Linked DNA regions of Homo sapiens: all the other regions are linked to region 5. Evidence: fine-mapped expression QTL. A gene starts in region 5. Each other region holds a variant in brackets. All regions are shown on one strand. Distances are from middle to middle.

Region 1 (4,000 bases), 42 kb after region 5:
TCCCTATTCAGCAGGTGTTTGGATGCTTATGTGCCAGACCTTAGGCCTTGAGTAGTCTCTTGTATTTCTTCTGTTACTGTAGTAGATAAAAATGCTTAGCTTTTTCCTCTGTGCAGCTTAATCCCATTTTAAATCTCTTTATTCTTGAGGCTATTTATGTAGCCAAGACAAGATCATTCCAAGGCCAATTGCTAAATGTATGGATTAATGATGTTGCTTTTCTTTAATTGCTAGGAGGATTATATACCCCTTCAGGGTGGGGACAGTGTCTGTCGTATGCAGTGTCACATTCCACACGGTGCTTCCCATGCAGGAGATTCTCCATCACAGATGTTAACTTTTAGAAATCGAATGATTGTAGCTTATTTTTCTACTTGGCAGCAGTTCTGGTTGGGAACTTATTATGGGGCGTGGGGAGAGGAGGCAGATGGAAGATAAACTTCTGGGGCTAGTGTTGAGGTTCACCCTGCCCATGTCAGAAGTCATAGGAACTTATTTAGAAATTTAGGGTTCCTGGTGTAGGTACACAGTGAATGATGCATGGCCAGTATTTAATCTGGAATGGTATTCTTTTTTTTTTTTTTTTTTTTTTGTGGAGATGGAGTCTCTCTCTGTCACCAGGCTGGAGTGCAGTGACCCTGTCTCGATCACTGCAACCTCTATCTCCTGGGTTCAAGCGATTCTCCTGCTTTAGCCTCCTAAGTAGCTGGGGCTGCAGGCACGGGCCACCACACCCAGCTAATTTTTGTATTTTTAGTAGAGACAGAGTTTCACCATGTTGGCCAGGATGGTCTCTATCTCTTGACCTCGTGATCTGCCCGCCTCGGCCTCCCAAAGTGCTGGGATTACAGGCGTGAGCCACCGTGCCCAGCTAGAATCATATTCTTTTGCAATCAATTTACAATCATTCAACCTCCAAATGGAGATCAACTGCCAGTGGGTTTTATTCTTTGTTTGGATTTTTATTTTGTTTTGTTGTTTTTAATTTCCTTTAAGATTTCTCTGTCTTGGGGAATGCACCTTGCCGGGAAAGGGTGGGAGGAGCCTTGGATTTGGCAGTCATCTCTGTCTGTAATTGGCCCTACTTTCTGTTGCAGAGGTCACTTTATCACAGAGCTCCCCCTGTTGATTCTTTGAAGTTAGGAGGTGCTTGATTACTTCCTTTTCTCTGCACAGGTGCAACTGAGAAACACCGCAGGTTTTCCAAGCATGTATAGCTGTTGGAATGTTATATCCCGGTCTTCAGGTGTTAGTCATTGCCCCTGGGCCAGGGTTGGAAACCTCGGGTGTCAGGTATAGGTAGAGATGTAGAGGGTGGGACATTGATAGGTTTCTCGTAAATAGCTGGTTAGAGGCCTCCATAATTAACAACACATCTTCCAAGGGCAGTGAAGAACTTCCCCAGTAGCTTCTGAGCTAAAACGTTTTGGAGGTAGTAATTTGATCAACTTGAAGATCGCGTATTAAGTTAATCGTTGATGTGAATCACAAACACAGAACACCGATATACTCATTGCTCCCTTGTAGTTTGTGACTCTTGTTCTTACAAATGTGTGTGGTTTGAGACTTGTTAGGCACAGCCCTTTTTTGTCTGATCTCTTTTTTATATATCATGCATACATCTGAGGAGGTCTATACTGTTTCTGTCATTAAGAGGTGGGAGTCTGTTTCCTATCCCTTGATCTTGGCTTTGATCTTGGGTCTCAGCTGAACCTCCCCCTGAATGCGGCCATGTGAGTGAGCCCAGTGAAACCAGCCAAGAAACCACCCATTAACCCATAGAGTAATGACAGTACATTGTTGTTGTTTATAGCCTTAAGTTTTGGCATGGTTTGTTACATAACAATAGGTAACTGATTGAGTAAGCTTGTTCTGGCAGAAAATACTCTGGCAGGGATCCTATCTTGCCCTCCTACACCCCGCAGAACAATCATCAGGGTTAAGAAAGCCTTTCACATCTTAGTATATTAATAATTTGGATCAGTCTGCTTTCTTCTCAGTTGCCCACTGAAAGGGTTGTTAGGTGCTAACTTTGTTTTGTAAGGAAAAGAAGGTTGCTGATTTGCGGGCATGATTTATTTTCGAGAAAGGATTGTTTGGTTGTTATGCTTTACTGGAGTTAGGGACTTAGCAGTTTGAGTGGACTCTGCATCTGATAAGTGTAGCAGTAGGTGATAAAGAATTCTGAGAGGAAGAATAAGAAACTACCAAGGTAGCTTTTGAAAATTATGCCTTAAACTGGTTCCATACTTAAAGGTGGGGGGAACTTTCTTCTACTTTGAATCTTTGCTTTTAGGACCCAGATTCAGACTAC[A/T]TTTCATAGCAGAATTCAGTTACATCATGGCATGAATGAGTTTTTTAAAGCTGGCCATGGGAACTAACTGTAGTTTATGTTGTTGCAATAGAAAATGTTATCCCAACAACCAACTTATAAATTAGAACATTTGTGACTTTTAGAGCATTTATAAGTTGGAATGTGCCTGTAACTATATTAGAGATGATATTTGAACGATGGGCTAGCTATTTTTCTAGATATATCAAAGTGATAAGTATTAGATATGCCCCATTTTTTACAGTGAATTGTTATAGTGATGTAAAGTTAGGGCTTTTTCATGTTTTATTGAATTATGTCATATATTTAAGTCTGTATCTCCTTGCTTTCTAAGGTCATTTAACATTTTTATATTTCATTGATATTTCTGATATATGAAAAGCGTGCATGTTATAGAGAATGCTTTTTTAAAAAACAGCTTTATTGAGATAGAATTTTATATACCATAAAATTTACACGTGTAAAATGTACAGTTCAGTGGTTTTTATTATATTTACAGAGTTGAACTATAATCTAGTTTTAGCACTCACTATCCCTCTCCCCACCACCCACCCTTCCCTGCCCCAACCCTACACAACCACAAATCTTTCTGTCTTTATAAATATGCCCATTCTGGGCATTTTCTATAAGTGGGGTCATATAATATGTGGTCTTTGGCATTAAGCTTCTATCACGTAGCATAATATTTTTGAGCTTTGTATTGTAACATCTATGAATTCTAAGAGGGAAAATGATTTATCCACCAAGTTATATTTATAACGTTGTTTAACATTTTCATTATGTAATATTTTATTCAAACAAAAGTGGACCATATAACACGTGTAAGTTATAAAGCATGACAAAATGAGCACCTGGATTCCTACCACTCAAGAATGGTACTGATACCATTGCATCTACCTGTGAATTTCATTCCTATTCTGTTCCTCCCACCTCCTCATCTCATAAGTTATCTCTAAGCAATATATCATTTCTTCTGTTTTTTTAGTTTATTAAAAAATGTATTTTTTTTGCAGCTTCTTTCACACCATACTGTGTTTCTTAGCTTTATTCATATTGTATTTAATGTATTTCTTTTGATTTCATTGCTTTTTAATTTTCTGTGTGAATATACTGTTTTTCTTCTGAGTAGGTATTCGGGGTGTTTCCAGTATTTTATTTAAGGATCAACAACACAATGAATATGTTACAACTGCTTTCTTCTATACATGGAAGAGTTTTATGTAGGGCATATACCTCGTAGTAGAATTGCTACATAGTAGAGTACAAAAATATTTAGTTTTTCAAAATATTTGTACCAATGTACACTGCCATATACGTTATATAAGAATTCCCACTGATCTTGATACTTGTCAACACTTGATATTATCAAACTTGTTAATTTTTGTCAATCTGGGATGTCAGATACTGTGATCTTAAACCTTTTTAACTACTTCTGAGGGTGATTATGAACTTCTAATAATTTATCATTCTAATCTTCATTTTTAAAAATGCCTGCTTGTGTCATTTTCCCATCAGAGGTTTTATATATGTGTGTGTGTGTGTATGTGTATATATATGTGTGTGTGTGTGTGTGTGTGTGTGTGTGTGTGTGTGTGTATATATATATATATACTTTTTTTTTTCTTGAGACAGAACCTGGCTCTGTCACCCATACTGGAGTGCAGGGGC
Region 2 (4,000 bases), 28 kb after region 5:
AGTAACTCACATAACTCTCAAAAGGAGCCTGTGAGTATAAGAGTTATCCTCATTTACAGATGGAAGATGTGTCTCAGAGAGGTTAAGGAACTGGCCTAAATAGTGGACATATGCCACTTTCAGAGCCTCAGTTAAGTGGAGGCTGCTCTGTGACATGCTACCACTTTATCTTTTCCTTTTAAAAACTTTTTTTGGAGTATAACTTATACACATATGGTAAGTGTACATTTTGATTCATTTTCACAGATTGAAGGCACATGTGTAACTTGCACCCAGATCACGAAACAGAATATTACTAATACCTGGACTCCACTGTGCCCCCTTCCGGCCATTATCCCTCCAAGGGTAGCCACTATGTGGAGTTTGAACTCTGCTTAACTGGAATTAGACAGTGTGTACTTTTTAAGTGTTTAATGTCTTTCTCCCAGCATTATGTCTGTGGGATTTATCTATATTGTTGGTCTCTTCCCGTCTGAGATTGGGTCTTAGAACCTAGAGTGTCCAGAAAAACCATTTGTTACTATAGGGCAAAACCATTTGTTACTATAGGGCTGTAAAGTCCCCTGAGTGTACAGTTGGTATTTTCAGAACTTGTAAAATTGGAAAATGTGGTCCTCTCGGTGTCATCGTGGTCTGCCATGCTTTGAGCATTAGAAGAAAAAGCTACCTGGTTTTCAGAGTTCTTGGTATAGAGGATTCTCTGTATATTAAGAAGGAAATGTCTTCGGTATTTTTTAAAGAATGGATTAAAAATATTGATGCACTCAGAGCCTCTGCCAGAGACATTTTCTCTTATAGATGTAGCATGCTTCTATGCAATAGCTAGGATCCTGAAAAGTTTATTTGCAGATGAAGTTAAATTCGGTTTTATCAAAATGTAAATGTATGAGGGAGCCTGATGGTGAAAGAAAAGGGAAATTGGTAAAATGATGAATCATTTGTGCCCTCAAAGACCTCTAGGCACATATTGAACAAGCTTGGGTTTATCGTTCATTGCATTGAGGGGAAAACACATTAAAGAGCAGAAAGGGGTGTTAGAAAGAACCTATTGGAAACTTGGGGCTTTGGTTGAGTAATATTGGGAAGGGTTGATGGAAGCAGGGAAGCAAAGGTTCTTTTTAGATTGGGTGTTTTCAGAAAGTGGGAGCGATTCTGTGATTGGGTATCTCAGTACCTTTAGGGAAGGCAGATTAGAGCCAGGCTACAGCTGTAATTAGTAAAGAAGTAGTGGTTACTCAATTTTGCCGAGATGGGATATGTTTGTATTTTGTGGGTTTCACAGTGATCTTGTTTTGTCTCACTTTGTCATCGTCTCAGAGTGACCTTGTTTGGTGTAGATGTTTAATGAGATTGCTTGTGTCCTTCCTACAGTAGAATGATGTGAGTTAGCTGTGTCAGATTAGTTTGTAATAATGAGGTCTGGCTGTGAGCATCTGATTAACTCCTGGATACTTATTTGTTTCTCAAGAAAAATTTCTAGACTCTTATTTTTCATAAATCTATAGTTTATAATATGGGTGTTCTTAAAATGGGATTGAACTTCAGTAACTTCTTATTCTTTAAGATACTAAGTAAGTGTTCTGAACAGGAAGTATATTTAGAACATTACCCTTTAGATCCTTGTTTTCAGGTTTCTTAAGTGACTGGGGTTGCCTTGTGTGGACTGCTTTTGAAGGTTTTAGGTAATCCTTGTCAAGTCATGTGGACCTTTGGCAATTGCGTAATCACACTTGACCCTTCACTCCTTACCTGTTGAATGAGGATGATCATAATAGTGACCCAAATTTCTTAATGGT[C/A]CCTTGTGAAATAATTGTTGGATCTCTCAGTGAGATGATAACTGCTAATTTATACGGTACCTGCTTCTCAAATGGATTTGAGGTGGCCAAGAAGATATCCCTTCCCTCCAAGCACACAAACTGCATCTTTTCCTTTCCTTTCCCTTATGGCTTGGCCTAAATGAATAGTCATAATTGTTAAATAATTCCTTGCCTATGAAAAAAAATTTTCTGAAAGGGGGCTCTTCATCCAAAAAAACTTCATTGGGATGCCCCATGGAGGCACTGAAATCTCTCATTATGACTCTTTTTAAGGCAGGGTGTGAGTAGAAGACTTGATACTTTGGCAAGCTGAATGTTATGATTGGTTGTGAAGGGGTAGGGGTTTGTGTGTCACATTCTGGGTCACCTTAGACTCCTGAATCTTTTCACATGGATTGGGATGTGACTTGACCAGAACATACTTTTCTAATTTTCTTGTCTAACAGGGCATTGAACCTTCTGATTTCTGGCACCCCTGTTTTGCTACATAGCCTTATCCGTAAACTGCAGCTGTGAATTCCTTCTCATTTGGTTTCATGGGATAGATTGTGAAACTGGCTGATATAAATGGCGAGTTTTCCCTTGCAGTATCCAGCCTGACAGTATTCAAGAAAGGAAAGGGAAGGAAGGTGAAGAGGAGTGCTTGGATAAATGGAATCAAAACTCAGACCAATTCAAGTAGATGAAATAAACAAGGGGGGAGCTGGAAATGCAGACATTTTGCTGTCAAGTGTAGGGCTTCTTGTGCATATTTGTAATAATGAGGTCTGGCTATGAGCATCCAATTAACTCCTGGATACTTATTTGTTTCTCAAGAAAAATTTCTAAACTCTTGTTTTTCATAAATCTATAGTTTATAATATGGGTGTTCTTAAAATAGGATTGAACTTTAGTAACTTCTTATTCCTTAAGATACTAAGGAACTGAGGTACTGTCTAATTTTGTCTAAACACAGTATATGGCCATTTATTCCATTGAAATGCTTTGAAATGGCATCTAAATTCCATAGATACCCGAACTTAGTTGTGTACCCTCTTAACACTTTCAAGTATTTTTGAAAACACTTTTACAGGATTTACAGGTTTTTAGTATTTTCTCTGGTGCTTTGCTCTTGCCATTGTGAAGATTTTTAAAATTTTACTTTCTCATTGTATTTGGAAGTGATTTTGTTTTGTGTTTTTGTTGTTGTTGCTTGGCTCTGGTTACCCTGATGAACAATTATTGGTTGGTTTTCTTGCACATTGTAGGTGGATGTCTGGAGTGACAGTTTTGTGTCTTTTCCTTTCTGGCATCTCTTAATCTCTTACCACAGAATGGGGTCATACTCACATTTAACTTAACATATTCTGTTGTGTATGCCTACTAAACAGAAGAGAGGGATAATTTAGACAGTGCTGGCTCCTCCACTGTCTCTCTTGCTCCACAAACATTTGTAGGCCCTGAGTCAGTCTCCTTCCCTCAGATGGCCACATCAGTTTCCATGACCTGGTGCGGGTTTCCACTGGTGCAGATTTTTTTTATAGAAATGTTTTCCCTGACCCTACCCCAGCTGTATCGTAATCAAAGAGAACCTGACTTTCTGCCATTTCGCATTTACATCCTAACCTTGGAACCTAGCCCTAACAGAAGAACCACCTCCATTTATTTTCTTTCTATTTCCTGCATTAGCTAGGATGTTCTGTACTACGTTGAGTCATATTGATGATCGCAGACATCCTACTCTTGTTTCAAACTTTACAGGAGTGATTCTGGTGCTTTATTAAATACGTTATCTGAGGAAAGCTCTTAGTAGATGCCTAGATGGAGGATGTTTGTTTTGCCATCGTGAATGAGCAGAATTTTGTCAAATGTTTTGCATCTGCTGAGATGATTATGCACTGCGTAATGGCATTTAAGTCTGCGATGGACTGTGTGTAAGACAGTCGTCCCTTAAGATTAAAATATTATATTTTTACTGTACCTTTTCTATGTTTAGATACATAAATACTAATCTTATGTTACAATTGCCTGCAGTATTCAGTATAATAACGTGCTGTACAGGCCTCGGAGCAATAGGCCATACCACATAGCCTAGGTGTGTAGTAGGCTATACCATCTGGGTTTATGTAAGTATACTTTGATGTTCACACAATGATGAAATCACCTAACAATGCATGTCTCATAACATAACCTGTCATTAACCA
Region 3 (4,105 bases), 26 kb before region 5:
GAGAATTCTCCAGATGATACAAACTGCTCTAGAAAATTCCCTTTCAGTTTGGACCACAGAAGCTTAATATCAAAGACATGTTTGATTCTACCTCATCCTTTCTAACAAAGAAGTAGATAAAGGCATACACTTCAAGAAAATGAGATGGAACTCTAGCCCAGGAAGATCCATGGCACATAATCTTTCCTGGGACACAGGGAGTGACTTGAGCGACCCATCAGACTCCCACAGTTTTTCAATGTATTTTCTCAGAGCTACTTTGAAGAGGTGGAGGTATCTTTGTTATTCTGTCAGTTTTGCTATGACACTTATTTTGAAAATGAGAATTTATTCCTATGCAACTGATGTATTAGAGAATAATTTGAGTGTAAGGCAATTTTTTGCTTGTTTATGTGTGATTTTTATCTGTGTAAAACACTAGGTGTAACTAGAAAACTGTACCCAACTGAACACAGTCAAATAAGAATGCACAAAAGATACTGCACACACATCAAACATCTACCAGTTACTTCAGATCACTATGTGTGCTACAAACCGGCCCATCCACATCTCATGTTAAAACTTTCTAACTTCAGAAAACCCTCCTTAGATCACCACACAGGAATTCACAAGAGGCAATTCTACTGAGCCCATTTCTGCATCCAAACTTCAAGTCTTTCTCAAGGTAAAATACCGTATTTAGTGTATACATTTCTTACTCTTTAACGTGCATAAATCTGTGCTGTCATTTTCATCAGGTTTCTATAATTTTTAACATGTCACTGAACTTCCCTCCAAGAAAATATAAATGCTTACTTATTTTACTTTAGTAATTTTATTGTTTTTTCTCTGTTGACAAAGTTTTAATCCACCTGGAATTTATTTCCATATAAGGATATAAGGTAGTTCTAGCTATTTATTTTTAAAATTCCAAATGAGGCTGGGTACAGTGGCTCATGACTATTGTCCCAGCACTTTGGGAGGCTGAGGTGGGAGGATTACTTGAGCCCAGGAGTTTGAGACAAGCCTGGGCAACATAGCAAGACCCCATCTCTACAAAAAAATACAAAAATTAGCCAAGAATGGTGGCATGCACTTATAGTCCCAGCTACTTGAAAGGCTGAGGTGGGAGGATCACTTGAGCCTGGGAAATAAAGTCTGCAGTGAGCTGAGATCATGCCACTGCACTCCAGCCTGGGCAACAGAGTGAGACCCTGTCTCAAAAATAAATATATAAAATAAAAAATAAAATCCCAAGTAGCTAGCAAAATATCCTAACACAGTTTCTAGTGTAGTCTATCATTTTCTAAGTGCTTTGAAATCCTTTTTTGTTATGCACAAGGTATAACTTGTGTTCGTTTCTGTACTTTTTCCTCTTTTCTGGTAACCCGTATTGCTATTTCTGCACCAGTACTATCCCTGCATTATACTGTAGGTTTATTTGTTTATTGCCTGTCTCACCCCAGTATAGTGTAAGTTATCTCACGAGTTATCTTACAAATAAGTTCTATATCTCCCACTATTATTGTATTTTTACTTTGAACTGCCAATGTGGTAAATTTTATTGATAAATTTCCTTGCATCCCTGAGATGAATCCTATTTTATAATTTTTTTTACTACTAAATTCTATTTGCTAACATTTTATTGAAAGTTTTTATATAAGTAAAATGAAATTAATCTGTAGGTTTGCTTTTATTTCCCATCTCCCACTCCCAAGATACTTTTGCTAAATTTTGGTATAGGCTGATTTCACTAAAAAGAACTGTGAAGATGAGATTGTATAATGCTAAGGGTTTGCTTCATAATTACTTGGGTGAGAGAAGCGTGATGGTGGTCATGAAAATATGTCTCTCAGATCTTCCACTGCCAAGAGCACAATTGACTAGCTCCAGCCGCTGTGCTCTGAAATCAATTCATCACCAGTTTACACAGAGGTCATGTTTCTCATGGACTATTCCCAGTCAATGACTTCTTGCAGCAGAGATCTTCGGCAGGCCTATTCTTAGGGAGTGGGGTACTTTTCTCACATGCCACCTGGGCTTAAGAATTTCCCATTGGCTTTCCTGAAACTTTTTGAAAACTCCACTGAGGTCTAAGACATTTCCTACCCAACTTTCCTTCCTCTCTTCTCTTCTCTACAGGAGTTAAACCTGCATTTCATTCTGACAGTTCTGTTAGCTCCCTCTAGTTCCCTTCCTTTTTTTCCCCAATAAATCTCTTGTGCATCTTATCCTATCTTCACGTTTG[T/C]CTCTCAGAGTTCTGAAACTAACACAGAGATCAACGGAGATACTGAGTTTTTAAAATTGGCCATCTGGCCGGGCACAGTGGCTCACGCCTGTAATCCCAGCACTTTGGGAGGCCAACGCGGGCAGATCACGAGGTCAGAAGATCGCGACCATCCTGGCTAACACGGTGAAACCCCGTCTCTACTAAAAATACAAAAAAAAAATTAGCTGGGAGTGATGGCACGCGCCTGTAGTCCCAGCTACTCGGGAGACTGAGACAGAACAATCACTTGAACCCAGGAGGCGGAGGTTGCAGTGAGCCAAGATGCACCACTGCACTCCAGCCTGGGCAACAGGGCAAGATTCCATCTCACACACACACACACACAAAATTGGCCATCTGTTGATGATAATCGTCAAAGGTAAATGATGGGTATATTTTATCATCCACTGTACGGTCTAAAAAATAGGAAGTCAAATGAACAAACATTTTTCAAAAGAAAACATAACGTGCAGCCGGGCCGGGCGCGGTGGCTCACGCCTGTAATCCCAGCACTTTGGGAGGCCGAGGCGGGCAGATCACAAGATCAGGAGATTGAGACCATCCTGGCTAACACGGTGAAACCCTGTCTCTACTAAAAATACAAAAAAAAAGTTAGCCGGGTGTGGTGGCGGGTGCCTGTAGTCCTAGCTACTCGGGAGTCTGAGGCAGGAGAATGGCGTGAACCCTGGAGGCGGAGCGTGAAGTGAGCCGAGATCGCTGCCACTGCACTCCAGCCTGGGTGACAGAGCGAGACTCCGTCTCAAAAAAAAAAAAAAAAAAAAAAAAAGAAAGAAAACTTAACATACAGCCAATAAGCATATGAAAAAATGCTCAACATCACTAATCATTAGAGAAACGCAAATCTAAACCACAATAAGATACCATCTCACACCAGTCAAAATAGCTATTACTAAAAGGTAAAAAATAACAGATATTGGCGAGGCTGCAAAGAAAAGGGAAGGCTTATACATTGCTGGTGACAGTGTAAATTAGTTCAGCCACTGTGAATAGCAGTTTGGTAATACCTCAAAAAACTTAAAACAGATTACCATTCAACCCAGCAATCCCATTATTGGGTATATACCCAAAGGAATATAGATTGTTCTATCATAAAGACACATGCACACATATGGTCACTGCAGTACCATTCACAATAGTGAAGACGTGGAATAAAGCTAAATGCCCATCAACAGTACACTGGATAAAGAAAATGTGGTATACCATGGAATACTATGCAGCCATAAAAAAGACAAGGTCATGTCATTTGCAGCAACATGGATGGAGCCAGAGGCCATTATCCTAAGTAAACTAACACAGGAACAGAAAACCAAATACCACGTGTTCTCATTTATAAGTGGGAGCTAAACACTGAGTATGCATAAACACAAAAAATGGAACAACAGACACTAGGGCCTACTTGAGGGTGGACAGTGAGGATCGAAATACTACCTATTGGGTACTATGCTCATTACATGGGTGATGAAATAAACTGTACACCAAACCCCACAACACATAATTTACTTATTTAACAAACCTGCCTGTGTACCCCCAGAAACCAAAATAAAAGTTAAAAATTTTTGCTGACTGGGCACAGTGGCTCACACCTGTAATCCCAGCACTTTGGGAAGCTGAGGTGGGAGAATCACCTAAGGTCAGGAGTTCGAGACCAGCCTGGCCAACACAGTGAAACCTCGTCTCTATTAAAAATACAAAAATTAGCTGGGTGTGGTTGTACATGCCTGCAATCCCAGCTACACAGGAGGCTGAGGCAGGAGGATTGCTTGAACCTGGGAGGTGGAGGTTGCAGTGAGCTGAGATTGCGCCACTGCACTCCAGCCTGGGCGACAGAGTGAGACT
Region 4 (4,121 bases), 110 kb after region 5:
TTTCATACATATTATGAAATGCTTTTGTATCTTGTTTTATATTGCTTAGTGTGTTTTCTCAGTCATGAGTCGCTTTTAATTAATCATTTTTTAAGTTTGCAGTTTTGACAGTGAAATAAATCTTAGAATTTTGGCTTTTGTTAATACATTTCCATATCAAAGCAAGGGAAGTTTATTCCAGCAAAGACTTGATGTAAAACCATAGTATTATATTTAGTAAGCTGGTGTTTGTGGTTTGGCAATTTCAACTTAGGTTCTGGTGGGGAGGGGTTATCCTTTATTGTATTCCTGGGTCAGAGGGTGAAGATGCATGATAATTAGAACTTAAGGAAAAAAAAAATCAATAGTACATGATTTCCAACCTCTAAGAGCTTATAATCAACAGCAGGGCTTACAGAAGCAGGTTTAAAAAAAAAAAAAAACTTTAATACAAGGCTAAATGTAATAAATTTCATAAATTGTGTATATTGTATACCCTTTAAAAAGTTATGTAGTTAAACAAATGGCAGTATGTCTATTCAATGGAATACTGTTCAGCAATAAACAGATTAACTATTGACACTTAGAACAATTTGGATGGATTGCAAGGGCATTGAACTGAATGAAAAGACCTAATCTCAAAGGGTTACCTACTATATGATACCATTTCTACAACATTCACAAAGTGACAAAATTATAGAGAACAGATCAGTCATTGCTAGGATGCGTTAAGAGTAGTAGAAGGATAAGGATGGTTGAGCTGTACACATGCATAGGCACACAGAGAGCACACATGGAAGCTGATGAAATCCACACAAAGTCTGTGCCTTAGTTACTAATATTATACCAATGTCAATTTCCTGGTTTTGACAATGTGTTATTGTTATGTAGGGTGTAATCAGGGGAAGCTGAGTGAAAGATACATGGGAACCCTGTAATATTCTTGCAATTTCTTGTGAATTGTAAACTATTTCAAAATAAAAAGTTATAATTTTTATAAACCCAAGGTAAAATAGTTTAAAAAGAGGTTCAAAGAGGAGAGAGCGACCAGCTTAGAGAGCTTTTGAGATGGGCTTTGAGAGGAGTTAATGAGCTAAAGTGCATCAAACCCTTACTTTTTCCAGGCACTCTCAAAGCACTTTGTGATATTATCTCCTTTCATCCTCATGACAACCTTGCAAGGTAGCTACAGTATTCCCATTGAACAGCTCAGGAATCTAAAGCACAATGAGATTAAGGAACTTGTCTACTTAGTGCCAAGTGTCAGAGCTAGGATCCAACATAGTCTGACTCTAGACTCTGTGGTCTTTGCCTTCTGCAAAGGATGAGTGAGGTGCTGATTGGCACTGGGAGCAGGAAGAAGCTGTGGTAAAGAGAAGACATTCTCAGGCTAGGGCACACCATTAACAGAGGCATGGAGGTCTGAATCAAGAGCAATAAAATCACTGCAGTTCTCTTCACAGCTGCCCTGGGGTTCAGCTCCCTGGAGATTCTGATTCATTGGTTTGGGATAAGGCAAGCAGAACTTTGATATTCACTGTTGAGAACCACTGACCTGCAGCATCAGAATATAGTTTGAAGCCAAATGCAGAAGTCTTGGTAACAGCTAGAGAAGGAGATTTCTTTTTTCGAGATAGAGTCTTGCTCTGTTGCCCAGGCTGGAGTGCAGTGGCATGATCTTGGCTCAGTGCAACCTCCGCCTCCTGGGTTTAAGCTGGGATTACAGCTCCCAAGTAGCTGGGATTACAGGCACCCGCCACCATGCCTGGCTAATTTTTTGTATTTTTAGTAGAGACAAGGTTTCACCGTGTTGACCAGGCTGGTCTTGAATTCCCGACCTCAAGTGATCCACCCGCTTCAGCCTCCCAAAGTGCTGGAATTACAGGCATGAACCACCATGACCGGCCAGGATTTTTTTTTTTTTAAGTAAGTAGGCAGTACTCATAATTACCCTTCAGAAAAGTTAACTCAGTAATACTAGAACATTGACTATATTTTTAAAAATGAACTGAATCCCCTATTTGAAGACAAGGATCCACTTTTTTTTTTTTTTTTTTTTTTTTTGAAACAGTCTTGCTCTGTCGCGCAGGCTGGAGTGCAGTGGCATGATCTCAGCTCACTATAAACTCCACCTCCCAGATTCAAGCGATTCTCCTGCCTCAGCCTCCTGAGTAGCTGGGATTTATCAGCACAAACCACCACGCCCACCTAGTTTTTGTATTTTTAGTAGAGATGGGGTTTCACCATGTTGGTCAGGCTGGTCTCGAACTCCTGACCTCGTGATCCATCCACCTCAGCCTCCCAAAGTGGTGGGATTACAGGCGT[G/A]AGCCACCACGTCCAGCCCACTTTTATATTTTATAGCCTTTCTCTTAAATGTAATCACTTTCATAAGAAATAAAATTAGGATTTTATTCTCCAATGTTTTTTTAAAGAAAACAACTTCTTTCTTTTCCCAGATGAGTAAAGTTCTTGTGATTCCAGTAAATATCACATTAAAAAACCACTTAGTTCCCAAAGACTTGTCCTTTATCCCAGACCTCCATTTTGTAAATGTGAATAAAAACTCCACAATTGGAAATGGAAATATGTCAAATAGAAAGCATCACTAATTCATAGTCAAATCACAAAATAAACTTTTAGTATTAGATGCTGAGGGCACAGAAAAGTCCTGCGATAATAGCACAACTAAAGGAAGGCTTGGCTGAATATCTCTGTCATGGAAACAAAAAAGACAGATGGAAGAGCATACTTAACAGCTTCTTGTTTTTACGTAATTCAGAAAAGCAGTAAGTGGAGTTCACATTGCTTGGCCTCTAATAGCTGATAGTATGTTCAGAGTAATTGTCAATAGGTGATTCCTATCCACATTTCCCCAGACAGCTCCTCTGTTTTCCCTTTTCACTTTGCCAGTATGGAACCTACCCTGTGCAAGGTATTGTGGTAGATGTTGGGAACTCAAAGGTGTAAAGAAAGCTAGCCACATTTGTGCAGTGATAAAACAAGTAATTCCCCAGACCGGCTGGTGACTTCTGCACTGACTCTTGACGAGCAGGGCTTCACATGCCACATGTAGGTGAGGATCGCTTTTAGATGTTCTCAAAATATGGACCCCAATCCAAACCTGTCTAACAGTAAGGAGAGTCTGGACATACAGATGTTAAAACACAGTGGAGATGATCCTGGACTCCTACATGAAGACTACACAGAACATTATATTGGACTGGGGATTGTTTCTTCCTTAAATACCAGGTTCTTTTAGGGAACATTGGCAGGGCTTTCATTCCTTGTATTGAATATTCTCAAGTCGTGATATTCCCAGTGGTTTTGTTTGCTGTTATGGCTGAGACACACACACACACACACACACACACAACACTCTCACTCTCTCTCTCTCTCACTCACTCATGCCCACACTCTCCCTGTCTTCTTCTTGTTGATTTTTTTTTTTTTTTTTTTTTTTTTTTTTTGCTAGGAGGTTCAGTTCATTGGCTACTTAATATCTATCTCCAGTTTGGTCAATTGTTGATACATCTTTTGACATTTCTGGTTTTCTTGCATTTGATATTTACTCCTTTGCTCGATTTTCTCCACTTTATTCTTGTTCTTTCTCATGTCTTTTGCTTTCCTGAATCTCAGTTGAATTCCTGACAGGGTTTGACTTAAAAAAATCATTATTGTGGTGAGACCTCTCAATATAAGATCTATCCTCTTATTTTTAAGAATACAATACAGTACTGTTAACTGTAGTATAATGTTGTGCAGCAACTCTCTGTAGTTTATTCGTTTTGCTTAACTGAAACTTGATGGCTGTTGAGCAGCAGTTCACCGCCATTCTACTCTGTGTCTATGAGATTGGCTATTTAAACTCCTCATATAAGTGGAACCAGGCAGGATTTGTCCTTCTGTGACTGGCTTATTTCACTTAGCATAATATTCTCGAGGTTAATATATGTTGTTGCATATGGCAGGATTTTCTCCTTTTAGACTGAATATTCCTTTATATGTCTATATATATCACATTTTCTTTATCTGCTCATCCGTTGATGGACAGTGAGGTTGTTTCCACATTTTTTTTTTTTTTTTTTGAGATGGAATCTGGCTCTGTCGCCCAGGCTGGAGTGCAGTGGCACGATCTCAGCTCA
Region 5 (4,000 bases):
ACAAGTCCCATGTCAAAATGCAAATTTCCTCCAAATTCCACTGAAGGCCACTACATTCTTAAGCTTAACCATGACTTGGGCCCTTTAAGAAAACCAGGCGCTTCAAACTCCACCCCTCTGCTGACTTGAAGCAGTGTGAGTCCGCCTTTCCAAGGCGGTTAGTTTTGTGGTGACGCTAAGAGAGAGTTAATTTGCCCCCTGCTCTGCCTGGAAGGAATGTTCCTGTTGCAATAAGCTCTAAAAGTGGAAGCTTTAAGATAATATGGAATAGGGAGCAATAGAAACTTGTGAGGTATGGCAGCCAGACCTACTCTTAAGATTCGATCACAGTGCTGAATAAAGGGGAAAGAATGTTGTTAAATCTGTTTCCCCCTGTGGTGCTTCTCCCTGCTAGCTTTACTCTTCCATTTCAACCCTCAAGTGAGCTTTCCAGAATCCGTTTCCAATTTAACTCATTGTCTCATGTACTAGATCCCAAAAAAGTGAGAGAACTAAGTTTCAGTGCAAATTAAACTGGATCACTTGTAACAGAATGATTTAGATTGCCTATATGTTTCTCAAGAGCAAAGCCAAGCATTTCCTCCCTCCTGCTATACAAACAGTGACAGAGTTCAGAAGCCCTCCAGCACTAAGCTAAAAAATACCTGGGAGAAACTGGGGTTTAGTTGCTGTTGGCATTTAAGCTGTTTGCTAAAAGCAGCCATCTTGGTGAAAGATGATGTCATTTGGAACACTTGGTGTTTTCGAGTTTATTCTGAGGTGCCAGTTTCCAAGAGCCATTGAATCACCGTTTAATCATGAGATCAAATTTAGGTTTAAAGATAATGAGGGAGTGGGAATAAGAATCATTCTTCTTTCTTCCTAACACTTTAGAAATCTTTCAGAAAGTTCAACCCAACAGAAAAAAAAATTACACTTTTTTTTCTATTTTCTATTACCATGTGTTTGTTGTAATGTTAACTAAGCGTGGGTAATAAAACTAGTCTGGTCAGTTTCACTTTCCAATTTTTATACATAAGTGAAAGCTGTTTTGTGTCAACAGGGCAAAGTGTTTAGAATCATCTCACCTGCTGGGCCAATTTCCTGCAAGCCTTTCTTTGGGAAGAGGAAGGGGGAATAAAAGTTTTTGATTTTTAATTTCTTAAACTGCAAAGCTAGAACCATGAATTAGACCGCATTACAGTAATTACTGTTTTATTTTTACATGCTAAAGTTTTCTAGGAGTGAGCAAGAGGATAGCAAAGACGGGTGATGTTGCACTCCCACTCAATCATTACTATTTGTATAGCATAATGTTATGTCCGCAGTTACTTTGGAAAATTGGCACTTAAAGAGGTGTTTCAATCTTCTACTAAAAGTGTTTCGCCTTCCTTTTTTTTTTTCTTCATTAGGTAAATGTTACTGTCTTAATCCTACTACGAGACATGTGCTGGAAATGTTTGCAAAATGCAAAGAGAAAAAGAAAAAAACAGTTGCACCTTGTTTAAACAATTGAGCGCAGTGTGGTTTATGAGGTTATTAAAGGAGATGTGTGTCTCTCCTGCAAATTCTTACTTAACAAGGTTAACCTGTGGCTGCTGTTGTTTCATCCTCCTCGGCCTCTTGTAGAGGAACTTTGTTCTCTTAGGTTTATCCAAGCCTTCCTAGTCAAAAACACCTTGCTTTTGAGAATATAAAACTGCGTGTATGTGTGAAACAGATAGAGGGAGACACGCGCACACACAGTCGGCGGAAGATGGGGCCACAACACGGTAGAGGATGGGTGCCGGAGCCCGGCTGACCTTTCCACGTGTCCCCGGCACCTGCGAGGCTGGTGGGGCATCAGGTTTCCTTTTTCTCGGGGCGGGCGCGAGCCCGGAAGAGGCTGGGCGGCCGTGGGCTTAGATCAGGGGGCTCGGAGGCCCTCCCTTGGAACACGTGTGGCTGGCGAGCTGGTGGTGCGGGGGCAGTCCTTGGCTTTCCCGCACCCGCAGTGCCTGCGCGTTCCCAGCCCGCCCGTGGTCACCAGACGGCGGCGGGCGGGTCCCGGAGCTTTCAGCCAGCTTTGCTGGGCGGCCTAGGGAGCGCGCCCAGCCCGGCTGGAGCGAGCCCCAGTGCAATACTGCCCAAGCCCGGGCGGGGTCTCTGTTCTCTGGCAGAGGAGGTCCCTTGGCAGCGGGAAGCGCCCTCTCTTTCTCTCGCCGCCGCTCCGAGTCTGCGCCCTGGTGCCAGGCGCTCAGCTCGGCGCTCCCCTGTGCTCGCCCGGCGCCCACTCATTCGCAGCCCGGCCTTCGTCGCCGCCGCCTCCCTGCTGCTCCTCCTCCTTTCCCCAGCCCGCCGCGGCCATGGCGGACAGCGCCAGCGAGAGCGACACGGACGGGGCGGGGGGCAACAGCAGCAGCTCGGCCGCCATGCAGTCGTCCTGCTCGTCGACCTCGGGCGGCGGCGGTGGCGGCGGGGGAGGCGGCGGCGGTGGGAAGTCGGGGGGCATTGTCATCTCGCCGTTCCGCCTGGAGGAGCTCACCAACCGCCTGGCCTCGCTGCAGCAAGAGAACAAGGTGCTGAAGATAGAGCTGGAGACCTACAAACTGAAGTGCAAGGCACTGCAGGAGGAGAACCGCGACCTGCGCAAAGCCAGCGTGACCATCGTGAGTGCCCCCCGGGGACGCGCCGCAGCGCCGACCTCCGCCCGCCCCGGGAGGGGCTGCACCCGAATCCAGCCACCCCCCAAGTCTTCCCCAGATTCCCGGGGACCCTCTGAGAGCACACTCCCTGCGGGGACCTGCTGGCTTCCGGGAGGAGAGGGAGGTATCCCTTCGGGGCCACGCGGGTCTGTCCTCCTCGGGGGTCTGAGGACCCTTGCGCGGTGCGGGGGAAGGCTACTGTGGCAACCATTCATGGTCCCTTTTAGCCTCTGGAGAGGAGGCCCCTCCGGGGCTGGGCTGGAGGCTGGCGGCGTGGCTGGGGGGCGGGGTAGGACTTTTTTCAGCCCTAGCATGTTTGAGGGGTGCGTCCAGAATCTGGGGAACCCCAGTCCTGGAAGAGGGAGGAAGCTGGGATCTCTTACTGGGTCCTGGCTCGGAGTGTGGGGGTTCGCAGCTGGACTGGGCACTAAGCTGGCATCTGGACTGCGCTAGCTGGATCGCCCGGGGAGGGGGCGGGAGAGAGTGGCCGGGAATCCGGGAAGTGGAGTTTTCTGGCCGGGATCGAGAGGGAAGGGCGGGTACGGCGCTAATGCTCCCACCTCTGTTGGAAGCTCTTTGCTTTGGGTTGGGAGGGTGGACGGTTTACAGCGAGGAGAGTGCAGCATCCACGCCTGGACAGGGCTGGGGCCGAAACCAGGGGAAGGGTAGTGACTGTGACTCCCTGGCTGAGCCAGAGGTACGTGTGTTTGCTTCATTCGTGGAGTGGTTAGAAGTATCTTGCTTCTGAGTCTAGATACTGGAGAACAGGCCATCTGTTCTGTTTCTACCTGTCCCCTGGAGGCTGCCCAGAAACGGGTAAGCTTGGGTCTGTAGGTCTCTCTCCTGGTGTGGCAGGCGTTTAGAAAGGCCCCTATAGCAGTGATGAGGCGAAACGTAACTAGAAAAAGTACACTGTGTACTCTCACCTATCATCCCTGCCAGCTCACCACATCATTAACATGAAGGATCCCCACACAGACAACTGTATTCAAATCAAAAGTTCCCCAGCCAGAAGCAGAGAAGATGATGTCAAGAAATCAAGGGGGATAAATGGCCATAGCTGCTGCAAAATAGCGGATTAGGCTGAACTTTGAAATGAAGAAAAAGGGATGAATTTGGGGATAGAGGGTCACACCTTGGAAATGGAGCAAGTTTAGGATGCCCCTTGTGCCAGGAAATGCCTTCGGTGGAGGAGGCTGTGTATATGTGTGCGCACGCGTGTGTACACCCCCAGTGCTGGCTCATACATGAGAACTAGATGGCATTCTTAATTTGTGTAGAAAGCAAGTTGCAAGTTAAGTGTGATCAGTAGCCTAAATAGCAGTTGATTGTAAAAA
Region 6 (4,099 bases), 190 kb after region 5:
CATGCTTGTGAGGGCTTCTCAGCCATGTGGAACTGTGAGTCAATTAAACCTCTTTTCTTTATAAATTACCCAGTCTCAGGTATGTCTTTAATAGCATCATGAGAACAGAGTCTCACACTGCTAATAAAGATACTACAGAAGCTCACTGTGACTACAGCTTAGTGAGTAAGTGGAGAGCTAATTTTTCAAGATTGATAAAAATCAGCTTCTACATAATTTCTCTGACATTTATCCTGCAACCTGGATGGTTAGGGAAACCTTCCAATGGCAGAAGATACAGATTCTCTATGTATTGTTGTTTTTTTTTTTTTTTTTGGTTGGGGGGATGGAGTCTCACCCTGTCATCCAGGCTGGAGTGCAGTGATGCAATCTCAGCTCACTGCAACCTCTGCCTCCCAGGTTCAAGTGATTCTCCCTGTCTCAGCCACCCGAGTAGCTGGGATAACAGGCACACGCCACCATGTCCAGCTAATTTTTGTGTTTTTAGTAGAGACGGGGNTTTCACCAATGGCCAGGCTGGTCTCAAACTTCTGACCTCAGGTGATCCTCCCGCCTTGGCCTTACAAAGTGCTGGGATTACAGGCGTGAACCACTGTACCTGGCCCTATGTATTGTTCTGTGTCCTTTGTGCCAGCATATGTCACAACTTACATTAAACAGTGAATCCTGTCTCTGAAGGTTGCAATTTTTCATGGTTATTCCAGCCTGATCTTGTCTGACCCCTAACTTGGCACAATATTAAGCAGCTCTGTTACTCTACTAGATGAATTTAAAGGCTGTGTTTTGCTGACATATTTTTAAAAACTACAAGCGGAGCTAAAATTACATCTGCTGTATTTTTTTAGTAACAGCTTTATTGAGATATAATTCATATATCATACAATACAATTGACATACCTGGATGGGTAGAATCTATCTTGTAAAAATGATAATACTGCCAAAAGCAATCTACAAATTCAATGTAATTTCCATCAGAATACCACCATCATTCTTCACAGAACTAGAATAAACAACACTAAAATTCATATGGAACCAAAAAAAGTGCCCCCATAGCCAAAGAAAGACTAAGCAAAAAGAAGAAATCTGGAGGCATCACATTACCTGACTTCAAATATACTATAATGTCATAGTCACCAAAACAGCATGGTACTGGTACAAAATAGGCACACAGACCAATGGAACAGAATAGAGAACCCAGAAATAAAGCCAAGCACTTTCATCCAACTGATCTTCGACAAAGCAAAGAAAAGCATAAAGTGGGAAAAGGACACCCTATTCAACAAATGGTGCTTGACAAGCCACATGTAGAAGAATGAAACTGGATCATCTCTTACCTTATACAAAAATCAACTCAAGATGGATCAAAGACTTAAATATAAGGCCTGAAACCATAAAAGTTCTAGAAGATAAGCTAGACCTTGGCTTAGGCAAAGACTTCATGACCTGGAACCCAAAAGCAAATGTAACAAAAACAAAGATAAATAGATGGGACTTAATTAAACTAACAAGATTCTACACAGCAAAAGAAACAATCAGCAGAGCAAACAGCCCACAGAGTGGGAGAAAATCTTTGCAATCTACACATGTGACGAAGGACCAATATCCAGAATCTATAAGGAACTCAAATAAATTAGCAAGAAAAAAACAAACAATCCCATCAAAAATTGGGCTAAGGACATGATTAGACAATTATCAAAAGAAGATATACAAATGGCCAACAAACATATAAAAAAATGCTCAACATCACTAATGATCAGAGAAATGCAAATCAAAACCACAATGTGATACCACCTTGCTCCTGAAAGAATGGCCATGATAAAAAAAAATCAAATCAAATAATAATAGATGTTGGCATGGATGTGGTGAAAAGAGAACACTTTTACACTATAGGTGGGAATGTAAACTAGTACAATCACTATGGAAAACAGTGTGAAGATTCCTTAAAAAACTAAAAGCAGAACTACCGTTTGACCCAGCAATTCCACTACTGGCTATCTACCCAGAGGAAAAGAAGTCATTATACGAAAAACATACTTTCACATGCATGTATATAGCAGCACAATTCACAATTGCAAAAATATGGAACCAGCCCAAATGACCATCAGTCATTGAGTGGATAAAGAAATTGTTTTATACACACACACACACACACACACACACACACACACACACCACGGAATACTACTCAGCTATAA[A/G]AAGGAATGAAATAATGGCATTTGCAGCAACCTGGAAGGAAATGGAGACCATTATTCTAAGTGAAGTAACTCAGGAATGGAAAACCAAACATCATATGTTCTCACTCATAAGTGGGAACTAAGCTATGAGCATGCCAAGGCATAAGACTTTGGGGACTTGGGGGAAAGAGTAGGGGATGGTGAGGGATAAAAGACTACACATTGGGTACAGCGTCCACTGCTCCAGTGATGGGTGCACTGAAATCTCAGAAATCACCACTAAAGAACTTATTCATGTAAAAATAAAATAAAATAAAATAGAAAAAAAAATCAGAAAAAAATGAAAGCAAAAAAAAAAACACAAGCAGAGCTAAAGTTACATCTGCTGTATTTTTTTAAATAACAGCTTTATTGAGAGGTAATTCATATACCATACAATTCACTTGACATACAATTGACATGCAATTCAAAGTGTAAAATTTAATGCTTTTTAGCATATTTACAGAGTTCTGCAATCAACATCACAGTCAATTTTAGAAATTTTCATCATTCCAAAAAGAAACCCCATGCCCATTAGTACATGTTAGGAGCTTCTCCCCATTTTCCCTCAGCAGGTCCCCTTCTTCAGCCCTAGGCAACCAGTAATCTTCTTTCTGTCTCTAAATTCACCTAATTCTGTGATGTTCATATAAATGGAATATATAACATGTAGCCTTTCCTATCTGTCTTCTTTCCACTTAGAATTTATAAGTACTTTTTACAGCAGAATAATATTCCATTGTATGGATATACCACATTTTCTTTATTTGTTCATCAGTTGATGGGCATTTGGGTTGTTTCCACTTTTTGGCTAATGTGAATAATGCTGCTATGAACATTCATGTACAAGTCTTTGTGAGGGCATGTTTTCATTTTTCTTGGTTATGTACCCAGGAATGGAAACCATTGGCTCATCTGGTGACTCTATCTTTAACCTTTTGAGGAAGTGCCAGGCTATTTTACAAAGTGGCTGCCCCACTTTTATAGTTTTTGAAAAGATTTTCTCCTAATCTCTAGAAGGGGGAGCACATTTTTGACACCTGATAATTCTCAGCATTTGAAATGTGAAATACAGATTATGAAATAAAGAAATTTAAAGAAAATAAATGAGTTTTAAAACTCAAACCAAAGTAAGAGGTTTGAGTTTTAAAACTTTCATTTATTTTCTTTGAATTTATTTTTTATGCCATCTAATAATAATTTACCTTATTATTGGGGTTCCTTATTACCCATTACATATTAAATAGTTAATTACATAAGAAATTCCTCACATTTTCTTCAAGTGCCTTAGGTCAAGTAATGAGGAGCCAAGTTAACCTGAGATACTTTTTAATTGACAGTCATTAAATTTATTTACCTACTAAATCATTGGGTACCTACTCTATGCCAGGCATGTGTGCAGTGCTGAATATTTTCTTTGCTATTTTATACTTTGAGAGGTTACTTTATTATTTCAGGGTTGGAGGAACACTGTGTACTTCAAATAATTATCATAGCTAATGTTCCACAAGCAAGCTCTTTGCATATTGAGTTTTTTGCTTTGGGTATTTATTAGTTACATACTTCTTTTTATAAAATATGCCATTTGGGCCACACTTGACAAGTCAAACTTTTTGCAAATTACAGTTGTCAGCACCACAGGAGTTCCATTAGGTATTTATTTTTCCACCTCACAGTAATGTTCATTTCTTAATTTATTTGGTGTATATTATAACATTACTGGCTGGAGAACCTGCTGAAAAATAATCTTGACCAGCCAAAGAAAAGTTGAACTAGTGGCCTTTCCAAGAATTACATCGAAGGCAGAATCCAATCCTTTACTTCATTAAGACCACAGTTGACAGAAGATGTACCCGAGTTATAGAAATATTGATGTGATGTGGAAG
Region 7 (4,108 bases), 120 kb after region 5:
CTCTTTTCTTAACACGTGCAACATCTTAATTTTTGTTTTTCAGCAGTTGCTGTTTTGTACTTTGGTAGTAAAGTGATTTTTACCACCTGTGTTTGCATATTTATATATGCTGTGGATGAAAATAACTTACTAGAGAATGTATATTTTATGACAAGAATGTGTATCTGTTGGATATAATCAGAGAACTGAAAAGTAATTTATCAGTAATTTTTAAGAGTCCATGTTTTGTGACAACCATCTCTAATAGCCAACTCTTTATTAAACACACTCCTAAAAATAAGGAACCATGACATTGTAGATATTTAATATTGTACAGTATAGAAACCTCCATTTTTGCCTTCGAATGCATATTTAAGAGTTAACAGAATGAAAAAAAAAAGTCTTGTTGGATAATAGTGTTTGACTAGCGTTTTAAGAACTTGAGAGTAAAAGCAACAATAAGATTTTTTCACCTCTTCCTGCTTCCACCCCCAAACTGAGAACATCACTCAATTGTTTGGAAGAAACTGTAGGTCTATATAAATTTTATTTATAATGTATGTGTAATATACATAATCATAATACAGTTCTCAGATGCAGGGAAGAAGTTTGGCATTTAATCATTGAGGCTTTAGGTTTTTGATGTGATCAGACTGGGCCATGTCAAACCCGGAATTTTCACCAACAGTTCACTCACCCTCCTGGTACATTGCCATTCCAAGGAATTCTGAGAGTAGGCAAACAAATTTTGCCTTCATGGTACAGTTCTCAGTTTTTCTTATAGGAGAAATATGGTATATGTTTATAAGAATCTTTTATGAGATTATAGATTTCAATGCTGTGGATAGTGTCTTGCACCCAAACAAGAAAGTCCATAATGGAATGATCTTCCCTCAGCTTCCTATCGATTTAGTTACCTCTTGAAAGCACAAAAATTAAAACATTGCCATATGTTGAATTTTTAAAAAGCACTTGGAGTGAGCGAACATTTCCTGATAAATGCCTTTTAGAGATAGGTTCTTGATATTCAGACATCTGCAGAAATGTTCTGGTTCCCAAAGTCATTTCACTTCGAAATAAAACACAGCTCCTTCAAACAGCACTTTTTCCACATAAATCTAGTTGCCTCTCCCTGTGGACATTCAGAACTGATAGAACAAACACTACTCTTTTGAATTTGATGGTTCGTGTCCTTTAAAGTGTTTGAGGACCTATGCAGAGCCTGTAACACTTGGGTAGTACCTGCTAGGACAATTTCTTGGCAATTGTCTTACTACTAGGGATCAGTAAGATTTAGATTCTGAGCCCATAATGGCAACAGCCCCCTCACCTATGGGAAGCTGACTTCCCTCAGTCGGGCACTTCTCATGGGGGCTGAACATGGTTCCTGCCATTCTGTTACCCACTCTCCCAGGTGAGCCCTGGATTGGCTCCCAGAAGGCCTTTGTAAAATCAGTAGCCGTCCTGCAGGCAGGTGGGAGCAACAGGGGCTTCAGTAGCTTCATTTTCCTGTCTTGCAGACAGAGACCCTTGGCTACCACTGTGCTGCTAATAGGATAAGTACTCTGTTGCCAGATTACCATGCCTTTTATACAAAACCAAATTAACTTACCTAATACCTGACACCTCTTTGGGCTCTGAACTGCTTTCTCTCATCAAGCATGCTAGCACTCTAGACAGAATTCTAGAAATTTGGCAGATAGTGGAAGCCTTTAATTGAACTTACTCCTTCGTTGACTGAAAGGAGTTTTAAATTCTGAGCTCCTGAGATACTGACTAGCAACCATGGAATGAATGTGTGACCAGAAAGTGGCTTTGACACCAAGTGCTACTGTCCCTTTGTAATTGGCTTCTAACAGA[AT/T]TCAACCAGAAATAATTGATAATGTGAATTTTTGTTAATTGTTCACTTGTAGGAAAATAGAACATGTATCACCCTTTGTTAGGTAGACATGAACTTTTCCTGCACAAAGCCTTGCTTTTAGAGAATGCCCAATAAGGCAAGAAAAAGCATAGTAACTTGTGCTTTGAGAGCTCAATATTTGTATCTTATCAGTACAGAAGAAATATTTCTGTGTAACTTGATCTTCTGTCTAGTACTTGTCTTATAGGTAACCAACACTGAAAACTTTGTAGTGATGACTACCAAAGAAATACATAGTAAAACAACCTTTTATTTCCAAATTGTTAAAGAGCCAGCCATTGATGCTGCTACATGAGTTCCATGCTCAAGAGCCATTGTAAGAGATTAAGGGGTTTCTAGGTTTTTGGTGATTTTTTGTTTGTTTTTTTCTTTGTTTTTTAGGGTTTTTTTTTCTTCTTTAATTTTTTGATTAAAACATACACACAGCTGTTAGCATAAAGTCGTGGGGGGCATTTTCTGGAATGCTCAGCAGTTCTGATTAACTGCCAAGCCCAGGTTGCCTCTCATGAGGCAACTGAAAAAATCCTGTGTCTTGATAGCATGGGTGCTGTGTGTGTGCATGTGTGTGTCTGCATTCATGCCTTAACTCGGGTTACTGCACAACTTTAGTTCTTGACTTAGTCTGCACCGTCATCTAGATTGTATTGTACATCTCGGTCTGAACTTCATCCTGGCAAAAACAAAGTTGCAGGCACAACAGTTTAAGAATGCATTCCTCCAGAAGAGTATCTGGTCAGGTTGACCCCTGAGCCTTCTTTGGACTTGATTTGGAACTTAGCCTGGAAAGCGAAAGTGGACTGTCCAACAGAAAGATGTCAACAAGGAAAAGAGGAGAGCCAAGCGCTAGCATGCCTTTTGCCTCTGCATATCTGTGCACACTGTATGTTGTTCATGATAGCTTGTCTACAACTTGACTAGGTTGGAGTTCTGGTAATAGTGGCAATCTTGACATTCTTGGTCAGAGTTTAGAGAGATGTAAGACTTTCAATTAATGTCTTATTTACTCCTTTATGTTGATTAGTCTTTGATACATGTGCTGAATCAGAAACCTAAATAAAGATAATTTTTTAAAATGTACCTCTTGAGCCTTAAACCCTATCTTTTTTCATTTCGGTTTTTGGGAATAAAACATTGTTTCTCTGTTGCTTCTGACAGACATCTAACTTAAATTGTAAACTCTAAAGGCTGCCTTAGAAAGTAAATTTAAACAACTGGGTGCAGTGACACAAGCCTGTAGTCCCAGCTACTCAGGAGTCTGGGGTGGGAGGATCACTTGAGCCTTGAGAGTTCGAGGCTGTAGTGAGCTAGGATTGCGCCATTGCACTCCAGCCTGGGTGTCAAAGGAAGATCCCATCTCCAAAAAAAAATAAGGAATGATGGCACGAAAAGGGCTGGTATAGTTTTGCTTATTTGTTTTTGACGGAGTCTCACTCTGCCACCCAGGCTGGAGTGCAGTGGTGCAATCTTGGCTCACTGCAACCTCCACCTCCTGGGTTCAAGCAATTATCCTGCTTCAGCCTCCCAAGTAGCTGGGACTACAGGTATGTGCCAACACGCCAATACAAGTTAATTTTTGTATTTTTAGTAGAGACGGGGTTTTGCCACATTGACCAGGCCGGTCTCAAACTCCTGACCTCAGGTGATCCACCTGCCTCAGCCTCTTAAAGTGCTGGGATTACAGGCGTGAGCCACCATGCCTGGCTAGTTTTGTTTCTTAATCAGAGTGCTGGCTGCTTGGATGTGTTGAGGTTTTGAAAATTCATGAAACCGTACACTTAACGATTTGTGCACTGCTCTGTATTTGTGTTGTATTTCAGTTTAAAGCAGTAAACCTGAGGTTATGAAAAGGAAAACCATGCCCATTTCCAAAATGTTACATACAAATATTTATGTACAGGATTTGGATGTCACATTTGGGATGTTTCGTGAGCTTTAAAGTTTCAATCCACCTGTTTGGTGTTTTTTTTCTCTACTTTGTTGGAAGCATGGCTTTGGGATCAATTCTAGGTTTGAGTACCAATTATTTTCCTGGGATAGTTACTTAACTTTTCTGGGACTCAAGTTCCTTACCTGTAAAATAAAAATGTTATTTATGTGCCTGGCTAAAATAAGAAAATTGATGGATGGTACAGTATAGTCCTTCACACACAAAATCAGACGTGGACTAGTCTCTTCCACATCCATCCAATGAATGAGTATTTGGGGTAA

Alleles and levels. Alleles are on the strand shown, and positions count from the first base shown. SD is a standard deviation of normalised expression in the study named. Not every link is listed here.
In carriers of allele C in region 2, the expression in aorta of the gene that starts at base 2,193 in region 5 tends to be higher than with A alone (small effect, 0.21 SD a copy in GTEx).
With allele A in place of G in region 6, the expression in cerebellar hemisphere of the gene that starts at base 2,193 in region 5 is higher (small effect, 0.31 SD a copy in GTEx).
With allele T in place of AT in region 7, the expression in fibroblasts of the gene that starts at base 2,193 in region 5 is higher (moderate effect, 0.47 SD a copy in GENCORD).

What was found. PIP is the estimated chance that this variant, and not a neighbour inherited with it, causes the effect. A credible set is the group of variants that fine-mapping cannot tell apart.
Region 1: its variant is the best candidate, but not a certain one, in a credible set for the expression of CCDC6 in nasal epithelium (TOPMed, PIP 0.53).
Region 2: its variant is the best candidate, but not a certain one, in a credible set for the expression of CCDC6 in aorta (GTEx, PIP 0.66).
Region 3: its variant is the best candidate, but not a certain one, in a credible set for the expression of CCDC6 in whole blood (INTERVAL, PIP 0.52).
Region 4: its variant is the best candidate, but not a certain one, in a credible set for the expression of CCDC6 in whole blood (INTERVAL, PIP 0.68).
Region 6: its variant is the best candidate, but not a certain one, in a credible set for the expression of CCDC6 in cerebellar hemisphere (GTEx, PIP 0.77).
Region 7: its variant is the best candidate, but not a certain one, in a credible set for the expression of CCDC6 in fibroblasts (GENCORD, PIP 0.58).

Annotation. Positions count from the first base shown.
Region 1 is chr10:59,862,445-59,866,444 of GRCh38, reverse strand. The region is part of intron 1 of CCDC6 (coiled-coil domain containing 6); the gene reads left to right. Among named protein-coding and RNA genes, the nearest start is that of CCDC6, 42 kb to the left of the region's middle. The variant A/T (reference allele first, on the strand shown) is at 2,315.
Region 2 is chr10:59,876,843-59,880,842 of GRCh38, reverse strand. The region is part of intron 1 of CCDC6 (coiled-coil domain containing 6); the gene reads left to right. Among named protein-coding and RNA genes, the nearest start is that of CCDC6, 28 kb to the left of the region's middle. The variant C/A (reference allele first, on the strand shown) is at 1,797.
Region 3 is chr10:59,930,713-59,934,817 of GRCh38, reverse strand. No RefSeq gene overlaps it. Among named protein-coding and RNA genes, the nearest start is that of CCDC6, 26 kb to the right of the region's middle. The variant T/C (reference allele first, on the strand shown) is at 2,228.
Region 4 is chr10:59,796,914-59,801,034 of GRCh38, reverse strand. The region is part of intron 7 of CCDC6 (coiled-coil domain containing 6); the gene reads left to right. Among named protein-coding and RNA genes, the nearest start is that of MRLN, 46 kb to the right of the region's middle. The variant G/A (reference allele first, on the strand shown) is at 2,305.
Region 5 is chr10:59,904,749-59,908,748 of GRCh38, reverse strand. CCDC6 (coiled-coil domain containing 6) reads left to right here and starts at 2,193. Exons shown (of 9, transcript NM_005436.5): 1 at 2,193-2,627. The coding sequence starts at 2,325. RefSeq lists enhancers at 1-558, 3,251-3,480 and silencers at 1,604-1,898, 2,081-2,420, 2,451-2,730.
Region 6 is chr10:59,719,448-59,723,546 of GRCh38, reverse strand. No RefSeq gene overlaps it. Among named protein-coding and RNA genes, the nearest start is that of SLC16A9, 12 kb to the right of the region's middle. The variant A/G (reference allele first, on the strand shown) is at 2,196.
Region 7 is chr10:59,787,632-59,791,739 of GRCh38, reverse strand. CCDC6 (coiled-coil domain containing 6) reads left to right here. Exons shown (of 9, transcript NM_005436.5): 9 at 1-2,993. Among named protein-coding and RNA genes, the nearest start is that of MRLN, 36 kb to the right of the region's middle. RefSeq lists an enhancer at 1,307-1,808. The variant AT/T (reference allele first, on the strand shown) is at 1,840.